4 linked regions of the Homo sapiens genome follow. The protein of the gene in region 1 purifies or fractionates together with the protein of each later gene. This does not show direct contact. Each region holds a gene or a part of one and is shown on either strand. Other genes may lie near its edges.

What was found.
Region 2: the proteins of TNFRSF10A (region 1) and CARNMT1 purify together in Homo sapiens (affinity purification with mass spectrometry; 2 studies listed by BioGRID and IntAct, with this or other methods). This does not show direct contact.
Region 3: the proteins of TNFRSF10A (region 1) and LSS purify together in Homo sapiens (affinity purification with mass spectrometry; 2 studies listed by BioGRID and IntAct, with this or other methods). This does not show direct contact.
Region 4: the proteins of TNFRSF10A (region 1) and CFLAR purify together in Homo sapiens (affinity purification with western blotting; 5 studies listed by BioGRID and IntAct, with this or other methods). This does not show direct contact.

Annotation. Positions count from the first base shown.
Region 1 is NC_000008.11:23,222,101-23,229,983, reverse strand, and holds the start of TNFRSF10A (tumor necrosis factor receptor superfamily member 10A), read left to right. Parts: upstream 1-4,881; 5' UTR 4,882-4,922; coding exon 4,923-5,228; intron 5,229-7,883. UniProt on the Homo sapiens protein: Receptor for the cytotoxic ligand TNFSF10/TRAIL. The adapter molecule FADD recruits caspase-8 to the activated receptor.
Region 2 is NC_000009.12:75,025,282-75,032,904, reverse strand, and holds the start of CARNMT1 (carnosine N-methyltransferase), read left to right. Parts: upstream 1-4,611; 5' UTR 4,612-4,663; coding exon 4,664-4,893; intron 4,894-5,753; exon of another isoform or gene 5,754-5,852; intron 5,853-7,623.
Region 3 is NC_000021.9:46,225,766-46,233,437, forward strand, and holds the start of LSS (lanosterol synthase), read right to left. Parts: upstream 3,010-7,672; 5' UTR 2,981-3,009; coding exon 2,967-2,980; exon of another isoform or gene 2,835-2,966; coding exon 2,669-2,834; intron 1,926-2,668; coding exon 1,787-1,925; intron 1-1,786. UniProt on the Homo sapiens protein: Key enzyme in the cholesterol biosynthesis pathway. Catalyzes the cyclization of (S)-2,3 oxidosqualene to lanosterol, a reaction that forms the sterol nucleus.
Region 4 is NC_000002.12:201,126,163-201,133,181, forward strand, and holds part of CFLAR (CASP8 and FADD-like apoptosis regulator), read left to right. Parts: exon of another isoform or gene 1-3,358; intron 3,359-3,566; 5' UTR 3,567-3,703; coding exon 3,704-3,984; intron 3,985-6,618; exon of another isoform or gene 6,619-6,866; coding exon 6,867-6,972; intron 6,973-7,019. UniProt on the Homo sapiens protein: Apoptosis regulator protein which may function as a crucial link between cell survival and cell death pathways in mammalian cells. Acts as an inhibitor of TNFRSF6 mediated apoptosis.

The sequences.
Region 1 (7,883 bases):
GTGCCTCTGCATTCTAGCCTGGGCAACAGAGCAAGACTGTCAAAAAAACAAAAAAAGAAAAATCAATGAAGTCACAGACAATCTGAAAAAATTATCAACCACCTTGACCTAATAAACATTCATAGAATACTATACCCAACAACTGTAGAATGTTCATTCTTTTTGAGTGCACATAGTATGTTTACTAAGGTAGACCCTATTCTGGGCCTACGAAGAGTCTTAATAAATTTAAAAGGATTGAAATCATACAGAACACTTTCTTTAGTTGCAGTGAAATTGAATTAGAAGTCAATAAGAAATACAAAAAAGACTTTCATATTTGCAGTTTAAACCACCATGGGTCAGAGGAGAAAGCCTGTAGAAATCAGAAAATATTTCAAACTAAATGATGATGCAAAATATCAAAATTTGTAGGACATAACTACAGAAGGACATAGAGAGTATGAGTGCTCGTATTAGTAAACAAAAAAGGATAGAAATCAATGATCTAGGTTTCCACTTAAAAGCTAAAGAAAGAAGAGCAGGCTGGGAACAATGGCTCACTCCTGTAATCCCAGCACTTTGGGAGGCTGAGGCGGGCGGATCATAAGGTCGGGAGATTGAGACCATCTTGGCTAACGTGGTGAAACCCTGTCTCTACTAAAAATACCAAAAAAAAAAAAAAAAAAAAAAATTAGCCAGGCGTGGTGGCAGGCGCCTGTAGTCCTAGCTACTCGGGAGGCTGAGGCAGGAGAATCGCTTGAACCTGGGAGGCAGAGGTTGCAGTGAGCCAAGATCACGCCACTGCACTCCAGCCTGGGCGACAGAGTGAGACTCTGTCTCAAAAAAACTAGAAAAAAAAAAAGAGCAATATAAACCCAGAATAAGTATAAGAAAGGCAATAATGAGAGAAAATCTATAGAATAGAAAACAGAAAAACCCTGAAAGTAATAAAGTTAACACAGACATTATGGCTATTTGAAAAGAATAATAAATCATTAGCGAAACTCATCAAAGAGAGAGAGACAAAACTAAGTTATCAAAATAAAAGAGAGGACATCACTATGATTGCTAAGGATAATAAGGGAATATTGTGAGCAACTTTATGCCAATATATTTAAGAACTCAGATAAAAGAGACAAATGACTTGAAAATTTTTACTTGCCAAAAGAGACATATAAAATAATAGAAAATCTGAAAAACTCATATCTATTATAGGATTTGAATTTATTATCAAAAACCTTCAGACACATACATACCCCAAAAGAAAAACAACAAAAATTATCACCAAGTCCAGATGGTGTTACTGGTGAATGGTATCAAACATTGAAAGAAGAAATAATGCTAATCTTATAAGACTCTCAGGAAACTGAGTTTATTTTATAAAGCCAGAATAATGAGTATACCCAAACTTAGAAAGACATTACAGAAAAAGACAATGATAAATCAATATCTCTCATGAATACAGACACAAAAATATGCTTAAGAAAGTATTAGCAAATCAAACCTAGCAATATGTAAAAAAGATAATACATCATGACAAGTGAAATTTGACCCAGGAATTCAAGTTAGATGCAACATTTGAAAGTCAATTTGATTAAACATTTGAATAGCATAAAAGAGAAAAACAATATAATCATCTCAATAGACGCCAAAAAATAACATTTGATACGTTTCAAAGTGTCAAACGTTATTGTTTATTGTTATATTTCACATTCTATTAATGGTAAAAACAGCAAAGTAGAAATGAAAGGGAATTTGATCTGGTAAAGGGCATTGTCTCACTCCATTTCCTGCTGCTATAACCAAATACCACAGACTGGGCAACTTATAAAGAAATTTATTTCTTACAGTTCTTGAGGCTGGGAAGTCCAAGAGCATGAAGCTGTCCTCTGGTGAGGGTCACCACACAACAGAAGAGCAGAAGGCCGAAGCAGGCCTAGGTGAGAGAGAGGGAGGAAATCATGCCAAACTCATTATTTTTTATCAGGAACCCACTCACATGAAAATTAACCCAGTCCTGAGACAATAGCGTTAATCCATTCATGAAGATGGAGCCCTCATAAGCTAAATCACCTCTTAAAGGCCCCACCTCCCTGGTCAACATGGTGAAATCCCGTCTCTACTACAAATACAAAAATTAGCTGGGTGTGGTGGTGGTGCGTGCCTGTACTGACAGCTACTGGGGAGGCTGAGGCAGGAAAATCGCTTGAACCCAGAGACAGAGGTTGCAGTGAGCCGAGATCGCACCACTGCAGTCTAGCTTGGGCAACACAGCGAGACTCATCTAAAAAAAAAAAATTGGCGGGCATGGTGTCTCAAGCCTATAATCCCAGCACCTTGGGACGCCAAGGCAGGCAGGTTGCCTGAGCTCAGGAGTTTGTGACCAGCCTGGGCAACACGGTGAAACCCCGTTTCTACTGAAAATACAAAAATTAGCCAGGCACGGCAGCATGTGCCTGTAGTCCCAGCTACTGGGGAGGCTGGGGCAGAAGAATTGCTTGAACCCAGGAGGTGGAGGTTGCAATGAGCCGAGATCAGGCCACTGCACTCCAGCCTGGGCGAAAGAGTGAGACTCTGTCTCAAAAAAAAAAAAAAAAAAAAAAAAATTCAACATGAGTTTTGGAGAGGACATTCAAACTACAGCAGGCATCTATGAGGAAACTATAACTAACATCATATCTAATGGTGATTAATTAGATGTGTTCTAAGATATGGAATAAGATAAGCATGTCTGCTTTAACTATTTCTATTTAACATTGTACTGGAAATCCTATCCAGGGCAATTCAGCAACAAAGATGAATAGAAGGTATAAAGATTGGAAAGGAAGAACTGAGACAGTTTTTGGTTACTGACAATAGGATTGCTTACATAGAAAATCCTAAATAATCTATAAAATAACAACTAGAAATATATCAATTTAGCAGTACCATAGCATACAAGGCCGATGGACAAAAATCAACTGTATTTCTGTATAGTTGCAACAAACAATTTGAAAATAAGGGAAGCTAAATCAATTCCATTAGCAATAGTAACAAAAATAGTTAGAAATATGTTTACAAAAGATATGAAAGATTTGTACATGGAAAGTTTGCAAAATATTGTCAAGCTTAAGTAACAAATATCTAAATAAATAAATTTCATGGATTGAAAGACTCAAAATTGTTAAAATGTCAATTATTCTCATTCATCTCTACATTCAATGCAATCCCAATTAAAATTCCAGTAGGCTTTTTTAACTGAAAAAAATTATTCTATATTTAATATATACGGAAATGCAAACCATTTGGGAGGTGGGTAGTAGGGGGAGGACTTGAACTGCCTGATTTCAAGACTGACTATACAGCTCATAATTAGGACAATGTGGTAATTAGCATGAGAATAGCCAAATAAATAAACGGAACAGAATAGAGTCCGGAAATGGACACATACATATATATGGTCAATTTAATTTCAACAAAAGTGATAAGGCTATTGGATAAGGAAAAAAAGTCTTTTTTTTTTTTTTTTTTGAGACGGAGTTTCCCTCTTGTGGCCCAGGCTGGAGCGCAATGGCTCCATCTCGGCTCCCCGCAGCCTCTGCCTCCCGGGTTCAAGCGATTCTCCTGCCTCAGTCTCCCGAGTGGCTGGGATTACAGGCATCCGCCACCACGCCCCGCTAATTTTGTATTTTTAGTAGAGGCTGCGTTTCTCCATGTCGGTCAGGCTGGTCTCGAACTCCTGACCTCAGGTGATCCGCCCGCCTCGGCCTCCCAAAGTGCTGGGATTACAGGCGTGAGCCACCGCGCCCGGTCGAAAAGAGTCTTTTCAACAAATGGTACCGGAACACCATTAAAATATGGAGAAAAATGAACATCAATCAGCGCCCCCTTTCTCTTACCCACTCCTCAGCCCCAAGGTCGCCCTGGGAGTTCTTCGCAGGCAGGACCGTGACTCGCGTGGCTTTCGGGAGGCTGATTACCCACGCCCCATGCCCGTGCAGCGCTGGGTGCAGAGGAACCGCTGGAAGGACCTGTCCCCCGTGGGACCCCCACCAAGTCTCATCCCGTGTCATGTGCCAGATAGTCTCCCGTGGTTTAAGGACTTTCAAGACTCTTAACAGGTTAGGAAAATCCAGAAGAAAGGCAGAATTGGGTCCCTCGGGCTTGCCTGACACCAGGGACGGTGGAGTTGAGGTGACATTTCACTGGCATGGAGACCTGAAACCAAAAGCAGGATGAGCCGGGCACGGTGGCTCACGCTTGTAATCCCAGCACTTTGTAAGGCCGAAGCGGGCGGATCACGAGATCAGGAGCTCGAGACCAGCCTGGCCAAAACAGTGAAACCCCCGTCTCTACTAAAAATAGAAAAAAAATTAGCCGGACGTGGTGGCGGGCACCTGTAATCCCAGTTACTCAGGAGGCTGAGGCAGGAAAATCGCTTGAACCTGGGAGGCGGAGGTTGCAGTGAGCCGAGATCGTGCCACTGCACTCCAGCCTGGGCGACAGAGCTTGACTCCATCTCAAAAAAAAAAAAAAAAAAAAAAGGCAGGCTGAATCACTCGCCCGGTAGTGACGGAGGAGGCCGTAAAAGCCTCTTAGAGGCCAGACCCCGCAGTGGCCTCTGTGTCCTTCATTCCGCCACCCATCCGTCCACCGAGCGCCTGCTGGGTGCCAGGAACTGGGTCACAGAAAGGCTGAGGTCAACTCCCGACCGAGAAGCCTGGCGCTGGGACCAAGTGGCAAAACGACTCCGAATGCAGCGGCATCCACGCGGCGGCCGTGGTTGAGGAACAGAAGCTGAGAGCGGCAAGGGCGGTCACAGAGGAAGGAAGTTCAGGGTTAGCCAACAGGAGCCGCAGGTGCCCCGAAAAGGGGGCGGGGTCAGGGGTGCCCTGAACTCCGAATGCGAAGTTCTGTCTTGTCATAGCCAAGCACGCTGCTTCTTGGATTGACCTGGCAGGATGGCGCCACCACCAGCTAGAGTACATCTAGGTGCGTTCCTGGCAGTGACTCCGAATCCCGGGAGCGCAGCGAGTGGGACAGAGGCAGCCGCGGCCACACCCAGCAAAGTGTGGGGCTCTTCCGCGGGGAGGATTGAACCACGAGGCGGGGGCCGAGGAGCGCTCCCTACCTCCATGGGACAGCACGGACCCAGTGCCCGGGCCCGGGCAGGGCGCGCCCCAGGACCCAGGCCGGCGCGGGAAGCCAGCCCTCGGCTCCGGGTCCACAAGACCTTCAAGTTTGTCGTCGTCGGGGTCCTGCTGCAGGTGAGTCCCCACCGCGGTCCTGCCTGGGGAAAAGCGCGCCTGGCACCGGGAGGGGGCAGAGAGAGAGGGGGACGCGGCGGGGGTGCCTGGCCCGGGTCACTTGTGGCGGGGCATGTCCGGGCAGGAGGAGCCCGTCGTCGGAGTCGGAGGAAGAACGGGGTCCCCGGGGCCAGGCAGGAGCGACCCGGGCCTGGAGGCAGCAGAGCCCCCTCCCGCAGGAGGCTGGGCCCGGGGACTCCACCCCGTTGGCTGCTGCCTGGCGCGTCTCCCTCCTGCCCACACCTCACGATGTATCGGGAAGTTTCGGAATCGATAGAGCTCAAGTGTGTAAACTTCCAAGCCAACTCCCAGCCACACCAGCTGCGTGAAGGGGAGCGCCATTCTCCCCACTCCCTGATTCCCTCCCCACCCCCGTCCTTCTTTTCTTCTCTTCTTTTTTTTTTTTTTTTTTTTTTTGAAACGGAGTCTCTCTCTGTCGCCCAGGCTGGAGTGTAGTGGCGCGATCTCGGCTCACTGCAAGCTCCGCCTTCCTGGTTCAAGCGATTCTCCTGCCTCAGCCTCCCGAGTAGCTGGGAGTACAGGCTCCTGCCACCACGCCCGGCTAATTTTTTGTATTTTTAGTAGTCACGGGGTTTCACTGTGTTAGCCAAATCCGCCCGCCTCGGCCTCCCAAAGTGCTGGGATTACAGGCGTGAGCCACCGCGCCCGGCCCTCCATCCTTCTTTTCTTAGACAAATTGGTTAAACACGCAGCCCGGCAGGAAAAAGTAACTTTCTCTCCTCTGCTCGTTGTCTTCCGTTTCGAGTCCACTGAGCACACCGGCAGCAGTTTCCTTCCAGCCACTTTCTTGCGCATCAACAGGTACAGGGCAGCGAATTGACCACCACGAGGCAGGCAGCCAGGAGCGGGGCACGCCCTTCCTTCAGGAGGCAGCGTTTCCTGTGAAAGCAATCACTCAGTCTGGAAAAATGCCAATGCCTTCAGTTCTCTTTCAAGTTCATTAAGGCTCTACCAATTGTTCTCATCCAGATTCCTTCTATGTTAAGGAAAAACAAAACGAAAGCTAAGTACCTGAAGGATAAACCAGTCTTACAAGTGTCAGGAAATTTTACGTGTTTTTGTTTAACAAACTAAACAAAATCCAGGAATCCAATAGCATTTTGAAATCTCCAAATAATTACAGAATTTATGTTTTAAACGTCAGTTTATGTTAGGTGGAACCCACGTTTGACTCTTATTTTTAATACGCTTATTAAATGGCTTTCTTTTTGACAGGCTAGTGCGATTCCAGGTGGATGTAGGGCTCACCTGTATAGACAAGGTGAAACATCTGAATTTGGTGGTTTTGGAAATGTCACAGTCCGTTGGTGTGGCTATAAAAGAATACTTGAGGCCAGGCGCGGTGGCTCACGCCTGTAATCCCAGCACTCTGGGAGGCCGAGGCGGGCGGATCACGAGGTCAGGAGATCGAGACGATCCTGGCCAACACGGTGAAACCCCGTCTCTATTAAAAATACAAAAAATTAGCCAGGCGTGGTGGTGGCCGCCTGTAGTCCCAGCTACTCGGGAGGCTGAGGCGGGAGAATGGCGTGAACCTGGGAGGCGGAGCTTCCAGTGAGCCGAGACCACGCCACTGCACTCCAGCCTGGGCGACAGAGGGAGACTCCGTTTCGGAAAAGAAAAAAAATAAAAAAGAAAACTTGACGCTGGATAATTTTAAAAGAGGCTTATTTGGCACATGGTTCTGCAGGCTGTACAAGAAGCATGCCACCAGCATCTGCCTCTGGTGAGGCCTCAGGAAACTTCCACTGGTGGTGAAGGGGAAGGACAGCTGGATTCTGCCCATCAGGGGAAGGGGTGGGGAGGATGGCAGGAGGAGGGGGATGAGATCCGGAAGGGAGACGGGGAGGGGCCAGGTTCATTCTAACAACCAGGTGTCATGGGGAACTAAGATTGACAACTCCTGGGGGAATGTGGGAGGGGGCGGTTATGGCACCAAGCCTTTCATGAGGGATCCACCCCAAACCCCAACAGGCCCCACCAGCTACATTACGGTTCAGATTTCAACGTGAGCCCTGGCAGGGACAAAGGACCCGTAGCAGACACCAAGGCCTTCTGCCATCCCACAGGACCCTCTCATCCCACCATCCCTCAGCCTTCTTCCTGTGCATTTATAGGCACCTTAACTTTTAAAATTCTGACTGAAGAACAAATCGCATTGGATGTTTTCTATCAGTACATGCAAGTATCTCATTCTTTTTAACAGCATCATAATATTTAGTGCATGGGTGAAACACATGGCGTGAACCACAGTTAATTTTAATCTTCCATCCCATGGGCAATTGTTAACATTATGTCCTGCTTTTGTTTTTTCTAATTCCAGCAGCATTGTAGTGAGAACCCTTGTATGTGTCATATGTCCATATGTCAATGTTCCCTGAAGTATCGGGCAGCCCTTTAGAAGAGGAATTTTTAGGTACATGAGCTCATCAATGTAGAATTTTGTTTGGATATTGCTAAATTGTACTTCGGGAGAAGATTGTGCCAGTTTTACTCTCACACCAAGAATACAAAAGTGTGGCCGGGTGCGGTGGCTAACGCCTGTAATCCCAGCACTTTGGGAGGCCGAGACAGGTGGATCACGAGGTCAGGAGA
Region 2 (7,623 bases), on another chromosome or scaffold:
CACAAAAGAAAAAAAAAATCAGCCAGGTGTGGTGGTGCACATCTGTAGTCCCAGCTACTCACAGAGGCTGAGGCAGGAACATCGCTTGAACCAGGAGCTCAAGACTGCACTGGGCCACTGTCACACCACTGCATTTCAGCCTGGGTGAAACAGTGAGACCCTGTCTCTAAAAAAAAAAAAAATAAAGTAAAATAAATACAATCATACAGTATGTAACCCTTTGAGATTGCCCTTTTTTCCATTCAGCATAATCCCTTTGAGATTCTTCCAAATTATTACATATATCAAGAGTTCATTACTTTGTATTGCTGAGTAGCTACAGTTTGTTTAACCATTCATCTGCTGAAGGACATTTGGGTTGTTTTCAATTTCTGGCTTTTACAAATAAAGCTGCTATGAACTTTTATGTACAGGTTTTTGTGTGTACATGTTTTCATTTATCTGAGATAAATGTCTAAGAGCGTAATTGCTGGGTTGTATGGTAAGTGCACGTTCAGTTTTGTAAAAAAAAATCACTATACTCTTTGCATGACAGTTCCCAGTGGCCTTGGACTGATCAACTTCTCCCCAGTTTCTCACTTGTATTAATAGTTCTCAAGAATAACTGTAGAATGTGCTAGGAATGCAATATCCTGAGATAAGGAGGGACTGGCTGAAACAGCCCAGGCTCTGTTCCAGTCCCTCCTAGAAACAGGATGTCCTTCATCATTTTAGCCCAACATGTCATGTTGCCTCCAGAATATAAAACCCAAGATGGTCTGCTTTCCAGGGTCACTCAGCTGTGGTACAAATGGGGTACACACAAATGAGACTCCATCCTTCCGGGGCAACTTTCCTGAGTCTCGGGAGATTGGCTCACAGTGAATCCTATGCTTCGGTTTTCCCTTGTTGCCTAGCTGTAAATAATAAATTCACTTCATGTAACTTGTACACATGGGTGTTCTGTCTCACCAGACTCAGTTGGTAACCAGTGCACAGCAAACCTGCTTTGCACTCTTTTCCAGAGTGGCTGCACCGTGTTACATTTCCAGCAGCAGTGTGCAAATGTATGTAAGCAGTTTAAGTGCTTAACCAACAGTTCTTCAGAATAACTAACAAAAGCACGATGGTGCTTTTTACTTATTAATTCCTGGAGATTAATTGGTCTCCTTCTGATAAAAACATTCCAAATCTTTCAGCTCAAATCACTCTATGGTTTGGGAAGATATCAGTGGAAGAAACTCACTGCAAAGAAGTTAAGTCAAAGAAGTCCTAAGAAAAGTGTTTTAAAACAAGGCTAAAACTTTATTCTAAAGACAACTGAGAGTAGGGAAGGTAACTAAGATTTATTGAGCCTATATACCAGGCATTTTTCAGTCTTTATCTCATGTATTCCTCCCAATGACCCTGTAAAAAGGGTAATATGTCTATTTCATAAATATTACAATTGCCGAGCTTGGTGGCCCATGCCTGTAATCCTAGTACTTTGGAGGCCAAGGCAGAAATATCGCTTGAGCTCAGGAGTTCAAGATCAGCCTGGGCAAAATAATGAGACCTCATCTCTATTAAAAATTTAAAAAAACATTAGCTAGGAGTGGTGGCGCATGCCTGTTGTCCCAGCTACTCAGGAGGCTGAGGTGGGAGGATCACGTAAGGCCAGGAGGTCAAGGCTTCAGTAAGCCATGATCACATCACTGCCCTCCAGCCTGGGTGACAGAGCCAGACTCTGTACCCCACCCCACTCAAAAAAAAGTAAGAAAGAAAAGAAAAAGAAATATAAGAAATATTGCAATTGAAGCTTTACATAATGTTTCATACAGGTTATGGAATTACTAGGTGGTGAAGTGAGAGTGAGAGGCCCATACTTGTAGCTTCTGCTGCCTTCAGCTCAGGGCAAAGAAACATAGAAGGCAATCAACATGTTTGTTGAAAAAAAAAAAGAATAAATGAATGAGTGACTTAACTTCAGCTCTGCTATTTATGTGTCCCTGGGCAGGAAAATTAATTTCTTTGAGTCTATTTCTTCATTTCTTATAGCAAGATAATAATGACATCTAGTTCACAGAGCTAAGGGACAAATAAGGTGATAAACTGGGAAAACAATTTGAAAAATATTAATTAAACAAATGTTAGCTAGCATAATATTTAAAAAGTACAGTCACAGTCATAAACAAATATTGATAAATATAGGTATGAGAGGAGGGTGGGTGTATGAAGATCACTTAATATCTCTGATTCCCTGGTTTCCTCACCTGTAAGATCACAACTGAGTTTAAAGCTGAGCACCTTCATGACACAGACTCTAAGACTCACCAAGTTAGGAGACAGAGTCAAGGAAGCCTCTGCACATAACTTTAATTTGAAAATGTTTATTCTACCTCCGAGGATATTTCAAAGTATGGAGCTGATTATCTTTATCCATGACATTCTGGCCTTTATCAATTAGGTCATTCAGACCTATATCAATACATTTAATGAATTACAACATGTAAAACTTCTGTGCATGTGTACATGAGAACAGTATTAGAAACAGCTACTACTATGAGTGTTTATACATAACTTCCGAACAATTAGTGTTTGGAAAAATAGACATTAGATAGAAAATCTGGAAGAATGGGCAAGGAATTGGTATATTGTGTCTGGAGAGGAACATAGCTGGCTAGGGACAGGTAAAACAATTATTCACACTTGGCCGAGCGTGGCGGCTCACGCCTGTAATCCCAGCACTTTGGGAGGCCCAGGCAGGTGGATTGCCTGAGTTCAGGGAGACTAACCTGCGCAACATGGTGAAATCCCGTCTCTACTTTAGTATTTTCAAATACAAAAAATTAGCCAGGTGTGGTGGCGCATGCCTGTAATCCCAGCTACTCGGGATGCTGAGGCAGGAGAATCGCTTGAGCCTGGAAGGCCGGGAGGTTGCAGTGAGCTGAGATCGTGCCACTGCACTCCAGCCTGGGCAGCAGAGCGAGACTGTCTCCAATTCATATTTGTAATCCTTTGCACTTTCTTTTTGAATTTTGAAACATGTATTACTGCATTACTATTAATAGACTCACGTTTTAGAAAACTTTTATATAAAAATGTTGTCATTTTAAGCATTACCTTTATTTCAACTATTAATTTAAATTATGAAAATATGAAGCCACTTCACTTTCAATATGGTTGTAACTTTTTAACAGACTTTGTGGTCACTGGGCATATTTAACCCCTCGAATAAAGCAATCTTTCCCTTTTATCATTACTTTGTAAGACTCATTTGCTGGGTGGTGGATTAAATTGAACAGAATAAGTTATTTCTTTTTCTTTTCTTTTTTTTTTTTTTTTGAGACGCTGTCTCGCTCTGTCGCCCAGGCTGGATGGCACGATCTCGGCTCACTGCAAGCTCCGCCTCCCGGGTTCACGCCATTCTCCTGCCTCAGTCTCCAGAGCAGCTGCGACTACAGGCGCCAGCCACCAAGCCCGGCTAATTTTTTGTGTTTTTAGTAGAGACGGGGTTTCACCATGTAAGCCAGGATGGTCTTGATCTCCTGACCTCGTCATCCGCCCACCTAGGCCTTCCAAAGTGCTGGGATTACAAGCGTGATTCACCGCGCCCGGCCCCAGAATAAGTTATTTCCCAAGAGCCACCCTTAGATGCTGGTAGGTGTAATGGTCTTCCCAAGACCAGGTGCTGGATAGAAGGTCCTTGCATTTTCCTCATCTGTTGCCATCCTCAGTAAAGGAGGAATTAGGACTGCCGCAAGCCCCTAAAGACTGGAAAGATGGGACGGGCGCGATGGCTCACGCCTGTAATCCCAGCAATTTGGGAGGCCGAGGAGGGTGGATCGCCTGAGGCCAGGAATTCCAGACCAGCCTGGCCAACATGGTGAAACCCCATCTCTACTAAAAATACTAAAATTAGCCGGGCGTGGTGGCGCGCGCCTGTAATCCCAGCCACTCGGGAGGCAGAAGCAGGAGAATCGCTTGAACCCAGGAAGCAGAGGTTGCAATGAGCCGAGATCGCACCACTGCACTCCAGCCTGGGCGACAGAGTGGGGAAAAAAAAAAAAGTGAAAAGATGATGGCGCCCACTTCCGACCCCCTTAAGTAATTAAAAATAGGAATTCATTTAGGAAGTGAATTAAAACTTAAATTAGGGTGGATACAAGACGTTCCTTCTAGACTTTCTGAAATAAAAATTCCGAATAAAATCATCAAAGCCGAACTTTTCCTTTTTGCCTTTCCCTTCTTTGCTAGTGCCTGGGACCGCGTTCAGCCTCCAGCTCAACAATCCGGCACTCGCCGGCTTTTAAGTCCCACCCACGCGGCCGCGCACAGGTAACGGCAGTGCCAGTCCCACCCCACCTACGAGCTCCTCCTCCGCCTCCCACCAAGGGGCCTTGGCCCCGCCCTTGGAAGCGTGGTTGTGACGTCAGCGCGCTGTCTCCGAAGCCCGGCAGCAAATGAGCGCAGACCGCACGGGCCCTCCGCGTACCAAGGCACACGCATGCGCATTGGTTCTGGGAGCCCTGAAGACCTGGCGGAGCCCAGCGCGGATGGAGGCCTGAGGGTGGCGGGGGCGGAGCGCGCCGCGAGCTGGGGGCATGTCCGCGGCGGGCGCCGTCTAGAGGAAGGCCAAGCAGCCGCCACCACGCTGTCGGTCGCGGAGAGACGCAAGCGAGCCAGGCCGAGGGCCGCGGCGGCGATGCAGCGACGGCGTCGCCCTCCGCCGCCCACCTCCCGGCTGCCCGAGGGCTGCGGGGGAGGAGGCGGTGGCAGCGAGGAGGTGGAAGTGCAGTTTTCCGCCGGGCGTTGGGGCTCGGCCGCGGCGGTTTCGGCGGCAGCGGCGGCGGCCACGCGCAGCACCGAGGAGGAGGAGGAGAGGCTTGAGCGTGAGCACTTCTGGAAGATCATTAATGCCTTCCGCTACTACGGGTAAGGAGCCCGTGGCGGACCCCGGCCCAGACCGTCGGGGCGCCCACTGGTGGCGGCGGACCCGCCGGAACGGGGGCGCTCGCCGTCCCGCCGCCACGCCTCCGAGGCGTCGGGACCCGGCTGCTGCAGCTGACCTCCGGGCCCCGAGTCACCTCGCACCACCCCAGCCCCTCCCGGCCCTGCACACCCGCGTGTCCGCCGCGCCGTCTGCTGCACAGCCTCGTGTCTTCTGACCTCAGGATCAGATTAGCTCTCCTGCCTCCGTCCTCGTAAAGGTTTGGCTTTGAGGCCGATGGGGGTGACCAGAGAAGCGCTGTAACAATTTCAGATAGAAGACGATGGTGGTACAATCGTCCACTGCTGGGCTGATTGGTGTGTGTGGTCGATGTCCTCCAAACTGAACACACGGAGAGCCCAAGTTCACCTACGCGTGGGATGCTGTAGGACGTATTTTCCCAAACTGTTACCAGTGCTTGTAAGAGCAGTTTAAGATTTCCACCCACCCCTCTTTGGCGCTGTGAACGCACTTGCACTTTTGTGTGAGCGATTGAATGATGCTGCTCAGTGTCTTTAACTGGTGGGTGATTAAGGGCGGAAGTGGTCCGGATATTCTAAAATTTGCTAATTATTAGGAGAGATGAGAGAAGTCACAATAAGAGCTGCCTTTACGTTCTTTTTTTCTGCAAATCTGTATCTAATTCTCCCTGGTGTGCTAGGCACTGTGGTAGGACCTTTATGCTCCTCATTCATAAAAACAGCTCCCTAACTTCCACGTTTCTTCTAGATAGATGTTAAAGTAGCTTAATCACAAAATTATAATTCCAAGAGCTGAAAGGGACTTAAATCAACTGGATTTTCAGGTGAAGATAACACTTTTATTCACGTAAGAGATATGAGTCCACCGGTGACTATGTTCTGAGGCTGCAGTTGGAATCAGACAGACATGACCTCCTACGCAGGTAAACCTGTTCCCATAGGTGGGTTCCTGCTGTGCTTTATGCAAAGTTTTTTTATATTGTTCATCTTATGTATTATAGTTGTTTTTATAAATCTCTTGCTTTGCTGTGACCTCCTCAAGGGCAGGGGCTGAGTCTTTTTTATTTTTATGTCACTAGTGCTTGGCATATGTTGTTTAAGCTCTATTTTTAACAAAACAAATAGTAGCAAAGAAATACATTTCTCATTCCCAAATAGTCTGTCAAGTTTTTGACTGATAGTTAAATTAGTTTACTAGTCTGAATTTAGAAGCTTGCTTAGTGAAAGCTTAAAGTTATTTGGAATCTGATTGTATATGTGATAGGAACTTTTGAACTTCGAAGATCTTGATGAAATAATTTACTGATTAAACCCAGAAATAGGGACCAGGGACAGCATTACTTTACGGAGCCCAAAAGAGAAGTTTGGATATTTTATTTCTCCAGGTTTAGTAGTAACAGAGGGAGCAAGGCGTCAGACCATCAGAGAATTGAATTTGATGCAGGAATTGTGACGGAAAGAACCATAAAGTTAGGAAAGGCAGCTAACATCAGATAGCTAAGAGTGGGAGATACAGAAAAGTCTGGTACATTTTGCTCTTGAAAAATCTAGAAAGAATATTGGGAAATGTCTTGGGAATATGGTGGACCCATTTAGTTAAGTGCGTAGTTGTACTTACTTTTAATATATTAGGACCAATTTAAAATTGATATTTATGGGTAAGTATGGGATGGGACTTTGTTGGGGTAGGGGTTGATCAGGAACTGAAGTGTGGCAATATAGAGAAGAGATCTTGTGTGAATATTCTAGTGGTTGTGATACTATTTCCTATACTCTCTTCTTTACCAGCGTAATGTTGGATTCAGGACATTTCATTTTTTAAAAAAAACAGTTTTTATTTGTATATACTCTCTTGAAACACTTCAAATACTTGGGCTGAAAATAGTATAACATCAAAAATATGCTTTTTAAAATGTCACTTAAAGCCTAGGGGTACAGAAAGTTTATGTAGCAGAGAACAGTGGATTGTTACATTCTAATATTTTGTGATCTTCTAGACTTAAACTGTAGCCACTAATCATATCTGGATAAATTTAAGCTAAAATTAATTAGTATTTAATAAGCTTTAAAATTTAGTTGCTCAGTTTCACTACCCATATTTCAGGTGCTCAATAGCTACATGTGGCTAGAGTCTGCTGTACTGGACAGTGCAAATAAAAGCTTTTCCATTATCGAAGTAGGTTGTGATGGACAATCCGGTTCTACACATTTAGCAAGTACAGTTGACCCTTAAACAATATGGATCTGAACTGCACGGGTCCACTTATACACAAATTTTTTGAAATAAACATATTGGAAAATTGTTTTGACATTTGCAACAATTTGAAAAACTTAGCAAACTTGCATAGCCTAGAAATAGTGAAAAAATTAAGAAAAAATTATGCCATGAATGCATATGTGTAGATACTAGTTTATCATTTACTACCATAAAATATACACAAATCTATTATAAAAAGTTAAAATTTATCAAAACTTACACAAACACAGATCTTACATGGAGCTATTTGCAATTGAGATAAATGTAAACAAGCAAAGATGTAGCATTAAATCTTAGTTGCATAAAATTATCTGTAGTAGATACTGTACTACTGTAATAATTTTGTAGCCACTTCCTGTTGCTTTTGCAGTAAGCTCAGATGTTACCAGTATCTTCTTAAAATAATCACTCTGCTTTTGTCTGTCAAGTAAATTGCA
Region 3 (7,672 bases), on another chromosome or scaffold:
CCAGTGGACACGTGACCCATGTGACCTTACCTATCATTGGAGATGGCTCACACTCCTTACCCTGCCCCTTTGTCTTGTATCCAATAAATATCAGCGCAGCCTGGCATTCAGGGCCACTACCGGTTTCCACGTCTTGGTGGTAGTGGTCCCCCGGGCCCAGCTGTCTTTTCTTTCATCTCTCTGTCTTGTGTCTTTATTTCTACAATCTCTCATCTCCGCACACAGGGAGAAAAACCTACCGACCCTGTGGGGCTGGACCCTACAGGAGGCTGAGGCAGGAGAATCACTTGGACCCAGGAGGCAGAGGCTGCAACGAGCCAAAATTGTGCCATTGCACTCCAGCCTGGGGAACAAGAGCGAACGCTGTCTCAAAAAAAAAAAAAAAATACAAAAAAACTCCAACTCACAGCCAGCCCACAGGAAGGGTCCCAGCCAGCTAAGCCCAGAGCCAAAGCAGCAAGAACAAACAACACAGTAATCCCCACTGACCAAGCACCACTGCATGCCTGACACTGTGCACATGACCAAACCTGATTCCAATCCTGTCACAGGTCAGGCTACAGAGGCAAAGTGGGGCTGACCCATCTCCTGACCAACTCTATGTCATTGCCTTACCACGAGCCCTGAGAACAGTCTAAACAGGCCCTGATGGGGCCAAGGGAAGAAGAGCACCTTGACTTCCCCTAAGGACAGGCCCTCAAATCCCAGGACAGAAAAACTCAATGCTGTACAGTCCAGGTGGCAGCAGGGCTAGAAGTCAAAGCAGAGATGGGGATCCCAGTGCTCCTCCTGCTAGTCTGGTTACCTGGAATAAATGTGCCTCAGCTTTCTAATGTATCTCATTAGGCTTATTCTAAGGACTAAAAGAAGAACAGGCCTTGAGCAGGGCTTGGCCTACAGTAAACACCATGGAACTGTTTTTAACGTTAAAGGCCAACTCTTCCCAAACTAACATATAAGCCTATTGCAACTTCATTTCAAGTCTGGGACAAAATCAGGATAAAGGCAATTTGGATGAGTAAATGAATAGACACAGGTAAGAGATGTTTTAAAAAGAAAGGCAACAAAGGTATATAAGGACTTTCTATCTATTACAAAGTCAGCGTAGTAAAAGAAAATGATGTATCAGTAAGAGTTATCACAGAAACAAAACCTATTTATGTAGGAATTCACGTCATTGAAACAATGTGATTACAAGTCACTAGGGAAAAAAGTCCTATTGCATAAATTCATAGGAGGGAATTTCCCATTTTACAAGGCTGAGGATTTCTGTAGAGAAACACTCCCAGGATGCAAAATAGTCTTGTGTAGCCAAATCAGTTCAATACCCAGGCAGTCCAACTGCTATGCTCCTCCTACTCACCAGCCTGAACCTGAAGCTCTCCTGCAATAGCCCCGAGGAAGTTCACAGCAGATATCAGCTCCCCACCCACCACTCTGCCCACCTACAGCCCCTTGGCATAGGCTGGGCCTTCCACCTGGAATGTCCATCCCATCCTGTACTGAGACTTCAAAGCCCACCTTCCTCCTCCCTCAAGGCAACACAGAGCCCTAGAGAACCACTTGCTTCTCTTATCAGAGAGCCTGTCACCCTACACTGGCAAGGCTAGCTGATCCCCTAGACCAATAGCAGGACGACTCTGACATAGGGCAGAGTTTGCCAGCCCTTTTCTTGTGAGCCCCTGGATTTTCACCTGCTTCATCAAAACCCTAGACCAGGCTGGGCCAGGATCCCAAGGGTGATCCAGGGTGGCCATACCATCAGGCTGGGGCAGCATACTCCTACCTGGCAGGAGGAAAAGTGGGCCACCATAATCACCCGTCCAGTGCCCATCCTCAGCCTGCAGCCCCACGTAAAATGTCATCCCGTTCAGAGCCCCCTCAAAGGCGGTGTGGGCTTTGGGCAAGTCCTTAAAGTAATTCTTCTGCAAAGAGATCGAAAAAAAAAAAAAGAGATAGCTGACGGGACTGTTGCCCGGCCAGAGGAACCCTCTTCACATACAGCCCAAGTCAAAACAGTGAATGTAAATTACTTTAAAAGTTTCAGCTGTTTCCATCAAAAGTCTGAAACTCTTTGATGAGAGCATCACACCTCAGCAAAGTAAAAGAACAGCTGCACATTTTCGTTGCTTTATTTGCCAGTCATGTATTCTTCACAACTTCTCCAAGATGTCTGGAATAAACCAGGCACCCAGACTGTAGGGTGGGGCACGGGTGCCGACCTGGGCCTGGGACTCGGGCCTCTCAAAGAGGGCCCAAGGGGCGGCACAGCCTTTCCCTCGGTGGCCGGGGCTCGGCAGGAGACCCTGTTTACACTGCAGACTCTGACGACCAAAATCTCTTACAATGCACACAACTAAGACAGTGGATCCAAACACTTTTTGTGAATAAAAACAAAGTTACAACTATCTTTGCAACTCTCCTATAAGTCAAAAATTATCTCAAAATAAGGTGCTAAAAAATAAAACATTAGGAGTCTCCTATGCGTGGTTTAGAGATGAAGGGGCTGAAGCGGAGGGGCCCGCGAACGCAGTTCCCGTGGGCGCTCGCCTTGGGGATGGGCGTCGCTGGCCGGGTCCTCCCACCCGCCTTTCTGAGAGAAAACGTGCTCCTCACGGCTCACCCCTCAGGGTCCCGAGCTCGCTGACGCTCCGCGGAAGCAACTTACGGTGTCCAGCCCCAGGGCGTAGGCTTCCAGGCCGGTCTGCTCGCGGCCGGCGCGCTCGTCCTGCAGGTAGGTCCACGTCTGCCGGCCCCTCTCGCAGTTGAGTCGCCAGCGGCCGAGGTCGGTGGCGGGCTCGGTCTTGTAGGGGCCCCCTCGGCGCCGCAGACACCTGAGGACCACCGGCCATCAGCGACCCAGGCCCCGCCCCAACGCCGGCCGCCGGCCCACTGCCCCAGTCGCGCTCTCCTCAGCACCTAGGACCACCCCGCATTCGTCAGGAGCCCGGGGCGAGGGGACTCACGTGCCCTCCGTCATTGCTGCTGCAGTGCTCTACGCCGCCCACTGCCAGCTGCCAGATGTCCGCACCCGGGACCTGCCGCCCAGCCCCGCCCCTCCCGCCCCTCCCGCCCCTCCCGCCCCTCCCGCGCGCACTACGCAGGCGCAGGCCTCGGCAGGCGCTCAGGCTTAGGTGGGCCGACGCCCACGCAACCAATCAGAGCGCCGCGAGCGTGACCCCGGGGTGTGCCAGGCGACCACAGTGGTGGAGCGCTTGGTGCCCCATGCGGCGTGGGGCGGGGCCTGAGGGAGCGGGGATGGTGGGTGAAGGCGACGGGACGGGGGAGGCGGGTGGGGCCTTATTGGCGGGGCATGAGGGGCGGGGCTGGTGGGTGGGGAGGTGGGGGCGGGGCTGGTGGGTGGGGAGGTGGGGGCGGGGCCTGGTGGGTGCGGGTGGGGGCGGGGCTGGTGGGTGGGGCCGAAGGGCGGGGGCGGGGCCTCTCGCGCGCCCTCTAGAGGCTTGCGTCCCGGGAGCCCGGCCTCGTGCGCCGCGCTTTGAGGTGAGCCTCTCTGAGAAATTTGTGAGGAGGGTCCAGCCGCGGGTCGGAAGGAAGGACGTGGGGAGCGAGGCTCGAGCGAGCGACAGCGAGTGCGAAGGTCGGGTGGCAGGGAATTGCTCTCGCGCTGCAGGATTTGCCCGGACGCCGGGGCCGGGGGTGGGGGCGGGAGGCCGCCCTGAGGTGAGGTGGGCGCGGGCCGTCGGCTCCAGTGCGAGACCAGGGGGAGGGCGGGGCGGAGCGGAGGAGCCGAGGGCGCCGCCGGCGTCCCTGGGAAGCTGAGCGCCGCGTAGCTTCGCCGGGGGGAGTGGGGTAGGCGCGGTGAGGCCGTGGGCCCCCACACCTGGCGGACCACAGGGGCCAGAAGCCCTGGAGCCCCGCCAGGGAAGGGCTGCGTCGCTGGCCAGGACCGAGCGCGGTAGAGCCTCAGCTGCTCACGGGGTCGCTGGAGTTGGGGGTGGCCCCAGGAGAAATTAAAGGTGAAAAGCCTTAGCAGCAGAGGGAAGAGGAAGATGGAGGCAGAGCGAGTGACCGAACTTGGAAGGGACAGCCGGGCGCAACAGGGCAGGGGGCGTCTGACTGTTGGAAACATGGCTGACGTCTGGAGGCTGCAGCCAGTGGTCCGTAAGTCAGGTCAAGGACCCACAGAAGACCCCAGCATGTCTTCACCTGGCCCACAGAAGCCCTGACATCCAGTTACAACTGCCCCAGCCTAGTGAGCATTTCGGCACCCACTCCTCAATTCCTACCCCCAGCCTAACTTCGAAGGGGCGGTGAGCCACAGCAAGCCGGAGGAGAAAGTTGGAAGAGAGAGTGGACAAAAGAATACCCACAGGCACCTTCCCCACAGTGGAATAGCGGGGTTTTAGACAATCAAGGATAATCACCTCTTCCTATCCCAGTTCAGAAACGGATGAAAAAGACACAGCAATAAGATGGGTGGGTATCAAAATATCAGCTTTGCCACAAATTAAAAACCTAGCTTGAAGGACAAGGCTTAAATCTGCAAGCAAGAGGGCAAGCTACTAAATCACCCGTTAAGTCAGACAAACATATCCCCCAGCCTCTAGGCCATGAAACTGCCTCACCAAGCACTATGCAATTGAGTGCCCACCAGAAGACACCCCTCCAGTCAACCCACAGACCCCAGAAAGAGTACCCAGAGGAGCCTGAGCACACTCCACCCTATCTGTTCTCTGAAATTCAATCAAATGAGTCACTCTACTTCTCTGGAAGCAGAAAGAGGCTGGAAGTTTTTCTCCAGGTAAGTTCCTCCATGTAGAAACATGAAGAATAGGGATAAGGGGCTTCAGCCTGGATGGAATCTCACACTGAACCTGGCAAAGCTAGGTGAGGGAAGAGGTTTCAACTGGATAAGAGTTTGAGTTTTGATATCTTAATGGACTGGACTTTTTATGAGTAAAATAATCCGCTCTTTTTAATGTCTGAAAGAAAAGAAAAAGCTGTAAACTACGTCTGAGAATTGACACAGTTAAGCTTCTAGGGGCAGTCATGAGAAAAAACACTGTTCCTATCTGCTTACATACTACTGCATCCAGCTTATTCATTAAGCCAGATACAGAAGGCTCTGAGGATTTTGGCCTCAACAACTGGGTATATGGTGGTGGTCATTTACTAAAATAGAGGTGTCTTTTATTTATTTAGTGACAGGATCTCAGTCTGTCACCCAGGTGGGAATGCAGTGGCACAATCATTAGCTCACTGCAGCCTCAAATTCCAGGGCTAAGTGATCTTCCGGGCTCAGCCTCCTGAATAGCTGGGACTACAGGCGTGTGCCACCACACCTGGCTGATTTTTTTAAAGTTTGGTAGAGACACGGGGTCTCGCTATGTTGCCCAGGATGGTCTCAAACTCCTGGCCACAAGGAATCCTCCCACTTCAGCCTCCCAAAGTGTTGGGATTATAGGCATGAGCCACCACACCTGGCCTAAAATAGGGAAAGTTTGATTGGAAAATTCAGATTAAAGTGGGGACAAGTTATACTAGAGATGCTTATTAGACATTCAAGTGAAATATTGAGTAGGCTGGCATTCAGGAGAGAACATAATGCTAGAGATAGGAATTTGGGAGTCATTTGCTTTCAGGTAGTATTTGAAATCATGAGATTGGACAAGATGAATTAGGAAATGCACATAAAAAAGAGAAGTTCTAGAATGAGCCCTGGGGCACCGACCTTTTCCAGTATAGAGGAATGGCCAGAGAGAGGAGGAAAACCAGAGGAATATGAAGTCATAATATAAGTGAAGACATGGTGATCTTTGCTGAGGCTTTGAAGGGATTGCAAAATGAAGACAGAATTTATTATTGGATGCAACAAAACAATGTATTGGTGACTGACAAGAGCTATCTAAAGAGACATGGGGGGAAAAGCCTAATGGCAGAATTTTGAAAGAAATTTTCAGTTAAACATGGCAGACTGAGCATAAACATTAACCTCCATTTCCTGCCCAAACCCTACTCACATAAAGTAATAAAAGACCAAAAAAACCCCACAAAGAATGGGAGAGGAGACACTAGTAAGCAAGAGAAGTCAACAAAATTATAGAGACTGGGAATGGATGGAGAAGTGATAACTGAGTTAGCTAGAGAAAGTTGAGACTTACGTTTGTGGGTGAAGCCAACAAGAGACCATTCCTGCCAGCAAATACCAGGAAGGTGCAGAAATTGGAATAACTGGTGGAAAATTTTTGTGAGGAACAGTATGACCATAGATCCCCTCTCCTACTTGGGTGGAGGAAGTCTCCAGTAGTTGAATCAGAGTAGGTGTTACCTCAGGCATGAGGCATAGCTGAGGACCACTGAAAGCAGACAGATTGAGTTAAAGTCTACACATGTGGGTCCAGGCTCACTTCTCCCACTTAGCCAGATAGCATGAGATAGTGGGAGGATCCCTCTGGAGCAGCTGGCCCACAAGAGTCCTGCAAACACTGGCAACTATGACCTAGTAGAAAAACAAACCTATTAGCTGGCAGACTGTACCCATTGACAGTTTCCAACAAGCACCATCATCAGCATGAGCCAGACATTTGGGGAAAACAGTGCAACATTACCTCCAGCCATGCAAGTGATCCATCTTGGACCACTGACCCAGTCAAGCCTTCAGATGACTATAACCTCAGCCAATACCTGACTGCAGCTGCATGAGAGATCCCAACAGAAAGCTGCCCAGCTGAATCCTCCTCAAATTTAAGCTACTATATTTGGGGTAATTTGTTCAATAGCAACAAAAAAACTAGAAAAAAGGACTACAAAGTGCCCAGCACAATAAATTGGGCAGGGGTTGGGGAGGGAATGGGGAGGCAACATATGAAGTAATGTCATTGAGAAATTTGAGAACACCAGGAATAGAGATGATCTCAAAAATTTCCAGCAACAAAAAAAGCAAAAACACAAAGGAACGATTTCCAATCTAAAATTCTATTCTCATTCAAATGATGAATCAAACGTAAGGATAGATAAGTCCAAAAAACAAAAAAAAACCATTTCTTTACTCTCACAACATCCTTTTGGCACCAGATGTAGAGAATTTCTCCCCACCGACAAGCAAGCATTCAGCTGTACAGCAGACACCAGCTGGGTATCCGCTTCAATCCTGCACCGTCTACCTGGAGATAGCAGCAGATCACACAAGTTGAGGACTCTGTGCCGCAAGACTGAGCCCCATGTCCAGTGTCAATCACAAGCCCCAGGTTGTTTTACCTGTCCTTCTGGGTTCCCAAGACCCCTTCCTTGGCTTTAATTTACAAGAGCAGTTCACAGAACTCAGGGAAACACATGTTTATTACAAGGCTATTTTAAAGGCTACAAATAGCCAGATGAAAAGATACACAGGATGAAGCCTAGAAGAGTCCCAAGAGCAGGAGCTTCTGTCTGCAAGGAGTTGCGAAGTGCCATTCTCTCAGCATGTGGACGTGTTCTTGTCCACCTTCCTGGAAGCCCCCACACATTTGGCTATCCACAAGCTCTCTGAACCCTGTCCTTTTGGGTTTTTAGGAGCCCTCATTACATAGGCATGATTGATTAAATCATTGGCCACTGGCGATCAACGTCACTTTCAGTCCCTCTCCCCCAACCTCTGGGAGTTTGGGGGGTGGGCTGAAAGTTTCAACCCCTCTAATCATGCCCTGGTCTTTCAGATGTCCAGTCCCTATCC
Region 4 (7,019 bases), on another chromosome or scaffold:
TTTTCTTTTATACTTTGGTTTAGAAAGGGGAGGGGGGGGTCTAGTTAAAACAATTTTACAGAAGTAAAGTAGGCAAAAAAGTTAAAAGGATAAATGGTTACAGGAAAGTAAACAGTTCCAGGTGCAGGGGCTTTAAGACTATTACAAGGTGATAGACGCGGGGCTTTGGGCGTTATCAATCTGACGAATTCCTGAGAACTGCGGATATTGCTGGCCACAGTATCTTATCAGTTAATTGCATTCTTGGATGTGCTGGGAGTCAGCTTGCACAAGTTAAGTCCTTGCGGAAGGGCTGCCAGTGAAACAGCCAAGATGGAGTCTGTCTGGCTCTCTTAGCTAAGGGAGAGTCAATTCAGGTGAAAACAAGGCTAAGTGATTAAAGGAAAGGGAGAGTCTAAAAACAGCGTTAGTAAAAACAAGGTTGGGCATTACATGATCACTGGGTCTCCACTGTCAGAGGGTCTTTGAGCTCAGTTCTAGTGGCAGCCTCCTGATCCTCACTTCCCTGGCTGAGGCAAGGTTGTTGCAGCAGCCCCAGGAGTCTTTGTTAGAATCCCACCCCAGAGCTCCTTCCTCCAGTCCTCTCAGCAGTTTTGTTAGTTCCAGTATTAAGTGTAATTTCTACAAAAAATGCCTGGAATATTTCTGTTTCCAGAACCGGATGCTCCTGTTAGCTAGTGTGTGAAAGATAACTCTGACTTGCCTAAGCTTTGTTGATGTTTTGAATAATAATTGGCGATAGTCTCTTGACTTCTGCAAGAGAAATGAAACAGAAATTGGTCTCAAGTTTTAGTTGCTCTTGTGAAGGTCAGGGACAGTTTGTACCAGGGTGTGGGTGTGGAAAAGAAGGGGAGATATAGTCATTAAATTAGAATATGCCTGTGAGGGGAGTTAAGGGGAATTCCTTTAAAATTCTAGAAAACACACACAGGTGCCAATTTTGTCTGGCTAGGGAAAAGTAAACTGCTGAAAACACTTGGGGGGAGAAATGAAGCTAATGGTATCTTGATCAGTCAGGAGGATTGGGTATTTGAAAGCAGGGAAGAAAAATAATTGGACTTGGATATTCCTTTGCCCCTTCATCTGAGTAAGGTGAAAGCAAGTGACTCTTCAGAAGAGGCGAATGGGACACTGAGTCCAGCAGCTCAGGCAGGGTGGAGTTGGTAACTGATGGGCACAAGTCTTTTACTGGGCTCTAAAGAACTCATTCATCTGGGTGTGGTGGCTTACACCTGTAATCTCAGCATTTCGGAAGGCTGAGGTAGGAGAATCACTTGAGCCCAGGAGTTTGAGACCAGCCTGAGAAACACAGTGGGACCCTTTCCCTACAAAAAACTGAAGACCTTATGAGCTTCCCTAGTCTAAGAGTAATTTTTATGTTAATTTCTTGGCTTGGGCTTAAACCCCAACAAAGTGGTGATTATTCGGACCCCAGCCCTACCTCTCCCTAGTATGCTCTCCTTTCTCAAGTACTCACCACCTCTAGCCACAGTGAACTGCCTCCAGCATACACACACGCTGCTATTTTGTTGCATCTGAGTGGGCTGGCTCCACACGGGATCTGTAGTTTCCTTTTGATATTTTCTTTCAATGTGCCAGATGCTACCACTGAGTAATCTAGATTTTGCTGCCAAACTCTACCCCCGTTAGCACAGAGGGAAGACAGTATGCCAGTGCTCTTGCTGAGTGTGCGTGACTGGCAGAAAGCAGTCATGGGTGTGATGGTTGGAAGAAACAAACTGAGCAGATAATGTTTTTTAAAATGATTATCTCATTTTGTTAACTCTTGGTGGCATTGTTATATTGTTGATACTTATGAATTACAAAAGTTAGATGACTGTAAAAAAATAGAGAATTAAGCATTTCATTTCTAGTAGTTCTGTTTGGTTCTTTTTCAAATATGTCAGTGAATTTGTATAATATCTCATTTCTTAGTCTTGTGTTTAATGATTTTATTTTTGTGTTTTTATAATTCCTTCTACTGCATATATTTTATACTTTAATTTATAATAACAACTGTTGACAAAATTGTGACTATTCATTAATACAGTAGAAAAGAACTTGGCCTCCTTTTCATGGAAGCTGATGATGAGATTAAAGCACTGTTGGCCTGCGAGTGGAGTATAGATTTGGGCTGTCCAGAACACATAAAATTTGTATTTATCTTTCTGATAAAAAAAAGTAAAATAGTCTGAGTGCCAATTTTTCCACTTTCATTGAGCACATTTAATTTTAGTAAATTTAACTTAGCAAATTTAATTTCTCCAGTTATTTACAAATAATCATATTTAAGTGAAGTTGGGATGAATGGGCAAGCCCATTTCAAATTTCTAACCTAATTTTTCCTCTTGTTTTCATATAAAATTTTTCTATTTATGTGTTTTTATTTTAAGATAGCTCAAATCTTTTGTGGACTGATACTGTATGTATATAAATAAATGGATTCAGTGCTTCTTTCACTAAATACAGCTAGATAAATATATAAATATACTTGAACACAAATACAAAGCAACCATTGGCAATTTAGAGTTGGGTTGTGTTTCCACTTATTTTTTGTTAATAAATTTGATTTTAACCTGAAATATTGTCTTGTAGGAACAGATAAAGAACACAAGAGGTGATTTAACATAAGTTTTAGCTGTGAAACTTAGAGTAGATAGGTTAGCAACTTAAATTTTGAAAGAAAATAGGATGAGTTTCAATGGAAGAAATTAAGAACACACCCATTGCATGAGCTCCTTACCCCTCCTACCCAGCCCCCTCCCAGGAGTGAGATCTTTCCCCAGATCCTCTGTAACTTCCAGATGTTCCACTGAGAACATCAGAAGCACTAATGGCAATTGCTGCCATGTAGCAGTGCATTGAGAGTCAGGGCCTCTGGCACCTCCATGGGGCTCAGGGTCTGAAGACGTGATCCAAACCTGACAACTTGGTGGCAGGTTCTGTGAGCATTCATGATGTTGTGAAAAGGGCTTGGGGTCTAGGAGGATGGCAGCAGAGGTTTCTGCCCTCAGGTGTGAGTGAGGGGCTTTTGAAGTAGGAGAGCAACTAGAAAAAAGGAGTGGCACAGGGACAGAAACTTCTTTTCTCCATTGTTTGTTCAAGGCCACGTGGGTGGAGTCATTGAGGTGGAGGTTTAACTCTGTGACATAAGTTTCCCTGATTTAGTCAGGCTGTCTGTCGTTGGGCTTTTCCCACTTCCTTCTACTACGTACTTCTTCCCTATTCCTCCTACTGAGGCCATTAAACCCTTAGTTGTAATTTTCCCTGAACATGCTTTACATTCTGATGAATTCTGAAAAAGAATGTGGGGTTTCCTTGCAGATGAGTTCATCTGTTGTTTCATTTCCTTTACAATGTAGGTTTTCTTCTCTGTCTTTTTGGATTAGTCTGTTTTTGGTTCTGTCTACCAAGGATCCCTTTCTTTAGACTTCTATAGATCCCTTTCTATAGAACTTAATCTACTTAAGTCAGGGAGACCACCCAGAAGGAAAGAGCCCATACTTTCAATCTTAGGCATAAGTTAGCTTGATAAGATTTTCAGAAAAATTCCCTTTTAACCACAGAACTCCCCCACTGGAAAGGATTCTGAAAGAAATGAAGTCAGCCCTCAGAAATGAAGTTGACTGCCTGCTGGCTTTCTGTTGACTGGCCCGGAGCTGTACTGCAAGACCCTTGTGAGCTTCCCTAGTCTAAGAGTAGGATGTCTGCTGAAGTCATCCATCAGGTTGAAGAAGCACTTGATACAGATGAGAAGGAGATGCTGCTCTTTTTGTGCCGGGATGTTGCTATAGATGTGGTTCCACCTAATGTCAGGGACCTTCTGGATATTTTACGGGAAAGAGGTAAGCTGTCTGTCGGGGACTTGGCTGAACTGCTCTACAGAGTGAGGCGATTTGACCTGCTCAAACGTATCTTGAAGATGGACAGAAAAGCTGTGGAGACCCACCTGCTCAGGAACCCTCACCTTGTTTCGGACTATAGGTAATTCATCAACTCTTCCTGAGGCTGGGTGGGTGGGAGGGAGTGAAGTGTCTCAGACTCTACTGAATGGCAGAAACGAGGATAATAAGAAGTGCAGCCACTTTACTGTCTCTGCCCACTTATCCAACTGCCAGATGATGTCACTTCATTCCTGTGAGCCCTTTAAATTCTTGAAACTTGTTTTCTTGCTTTCTTTTTCTTTCTTTCTTTTTTTTTTTTTTTTTTTTTTTTTTGAGACAGAGTCTCACCCTGTTGCCCAGGCTGGAGTGCAGTGGCGTGATCTTGGCTCACTGCAACCTCCGCCTTCTGGGTTCAAGCGATTCTCCTGCCTCAGCCTCCCAAGTACTTGGGACTACAGGCGTGCGCCACCATGCCTGGCTAATTTTTTTTTGTATTTTTAGTGGAGACGGGGTTTCACCATGTTGGCCAGGCTGGTCTTGAACTCCTGACCTCAAGTGATCCACCTGCCTTGGCTTCCCAAAATGCTGGGATAACAGGCATGAGCCATTGCCTCCAGCTGAAACATGCTTTCTCAAAGGAATTGGGATCATATGCAGGTAGAAGGGCAGCTGGTATGTGTTTGCCTGAAGGATAGAATGACAAGACGTGAAGAAAGATAGGAATGACTAAGAGCTAGTCATTCTTGCCAGCCTCTGACAGTGTGAGATCTGCAGCAGTGTTTACTAGTTCATTTTCTGTGAAGTCAGTCCTTGATAATTTGTGGTACAAAGAAAGGAAATAACAAGTCTGACAGTAATCTTCCTACCTTTGTAGAGACTCCATCATCCCTTCTGAATCCCTGTTGGCCCTACCCTGCTGAGGAAGTTTATCAGGGTGGGCTCCCTTCCTGCACTTCCTGCGCTTGGAGACATTGGAGAGCCCACATTGAAAATCTCTTCAGTTAACCACATTTAAGTCCCTTCAGTCCAAAGAGGAAATGGCCACTGGAGTCTGCTTTAGTTCCCACAAGCTTTGGGTTGCTCCTTCCTCCTGTTCACATGTTAATGTCTTTAGAGGTTCAGAGGGGCATGGAAGCTACTGAGAGACTGACTTCCTGGGGAAAGGAAGATAACTTGTAACCTTAAGTTGGTGTTTTCTTTTTTTTTTTGAGACAAAGTCTCGCTCTGCAGCCCAGGCTGGAGTGCAGTGGTGCGATCTTGGCTCACTGTAACCTCTGCTTCTGGGTTCAAGTGATTCTCCTGCCTTAGCCTCCTGAGTAGCTGGGATTACAGGCACGCACCACTATGTCTGGCTAATTATTGTATTTTTACTAGAAACAGGGTTTTGCCATGTTGGCCAGGCTGGTCTTGAACTCTTAGCCTCAAGTGATCTGCCCTCCTTGGCCTCTTAAAGTGCTGGGATTATAGGTGTGAGCCACCATGCCCAGCCGGTGTTTTTTCTCTCGACCACCAGCCTTTTATTATGTTGATAATGTGTATTTGGAGATGATAATTATTATCAAGAACTATACTAAAGAGAGCTGAAAGCAGTGTGGGCTTTGGAAAGTATATGAGATTTGAACTTGGAAAGCCTGTTTTTTTGGTTTTTGTTTTTTTGTTTGTTTGTTTGTTTTTGAGACAGGGTCTTGCTCTGTCATCCAGGCTGGAGTGCAGTGGCATGATCATAGCTCATTGTAGCTGGAAGACCTGTTTCAAGCCTCAGATCTACCAATTATGGGCCAGGCAGGCTGGGCCAATCACTAACCTTGTTGGGCCTCTGTTTTCCTACTTGTAAAGCGAAAAATAATAATACCTGACTTTACAAGGTTGTTGTGAGCATCAGTTGTAATAATTTACTATGTGAAGTACTTTTTAAACTGTGAAGCACTCTACAGATAGAAGGGATTATTATCATTGTTATTATTATTATTTTTTTAATCTTCCACCTATTCAGCCATCAGTTTTAATGTCAGTAATCTTCAGACTTTCCGGGAGGCACCAACTGAGTTTCAGTGAATAGGGCAATCTCTCCATTTCCCATTTCCTTGCTATGATGAGTGGAGATTCTTCAGGCCCTCTGGGAAGGGTTGCGGGGGCAGTTGAAGAGGAGTGCTAGATTTATTTATTCATCTGGTGAGTGGGCTTCATTGTGTATTGGTGCTAAGTGTTTTGGTAAGCTCTAGGACAAAATGAAAAGTCTGCCATCCTCAAGAATCTGAGAGCCTAACTGGGAAAATGGCCTTGATGACAATGTCATGGTAACAATACTAACCACAGGGTGTCCTTAGGAGCCCCAGAAAAGTGTGGTTGTTGGTTCTCAAAGTCTATTTCCTAGGGGGGGAAAAATATATATATATATATATATATATAGTGTTAGCTCCAGCCACCAGTGAGTCAGGAGAGGCTTTCTAGGCAAAGACATCTAAGTTCAGAATCCTTGTGATCCAGATGCCTGTACCCTTTGAGTTCAGAGGTGGGCCAGGGTATCTCAGGTATTTCTTTCCTTTAGCATCTTGCAATTCAAAATATGGTCCTTGAATCAACATCACCTGAGAGCTTGTTAAACAGAGAAGGCTACTTCAAATTCTATTTCTGTCTTTTATGTTAGTCATTTGGGTTCTTAAGTCATTTCACTGTAACCTCTGGGGGAGCTAGGGGATTCTTTAAGGAAGTTTCCATTCTCTGAGTTGTTTTCAGAAACTGTTAGTTGGCAAAGGATGTACCATCTCCTATTAAACGGGCAAGGACAAGTTCCCTTTTCTGAGGTCCCTTAAGATCTCTTCCTGGGGTGATCTAGGCTTGCTGTTTTATGAGGGAGGGACATATTTACACAGGGGCAAGAACTAGTCTTTTAATCCATTGTTGCATAGGGGAGGCGTGGGCACTTGGAGTTGTCTTAGGACTGATGTCTGAATTAACTAAATGAACTTGTCTGGTTTGCAGAGTGCTGATGGCAGAGATTGGTGAGGATTTGGATAAATCTGATGTGTCCTCATTAATTTTCCTCATGAAGGATTACATGGGCCGAGGCAAGATAAGCAAGGAGAAGGTGAGTTTTCTTCTTTTGGTTCATGGCCCCAGGAGCCTATCAGAAGT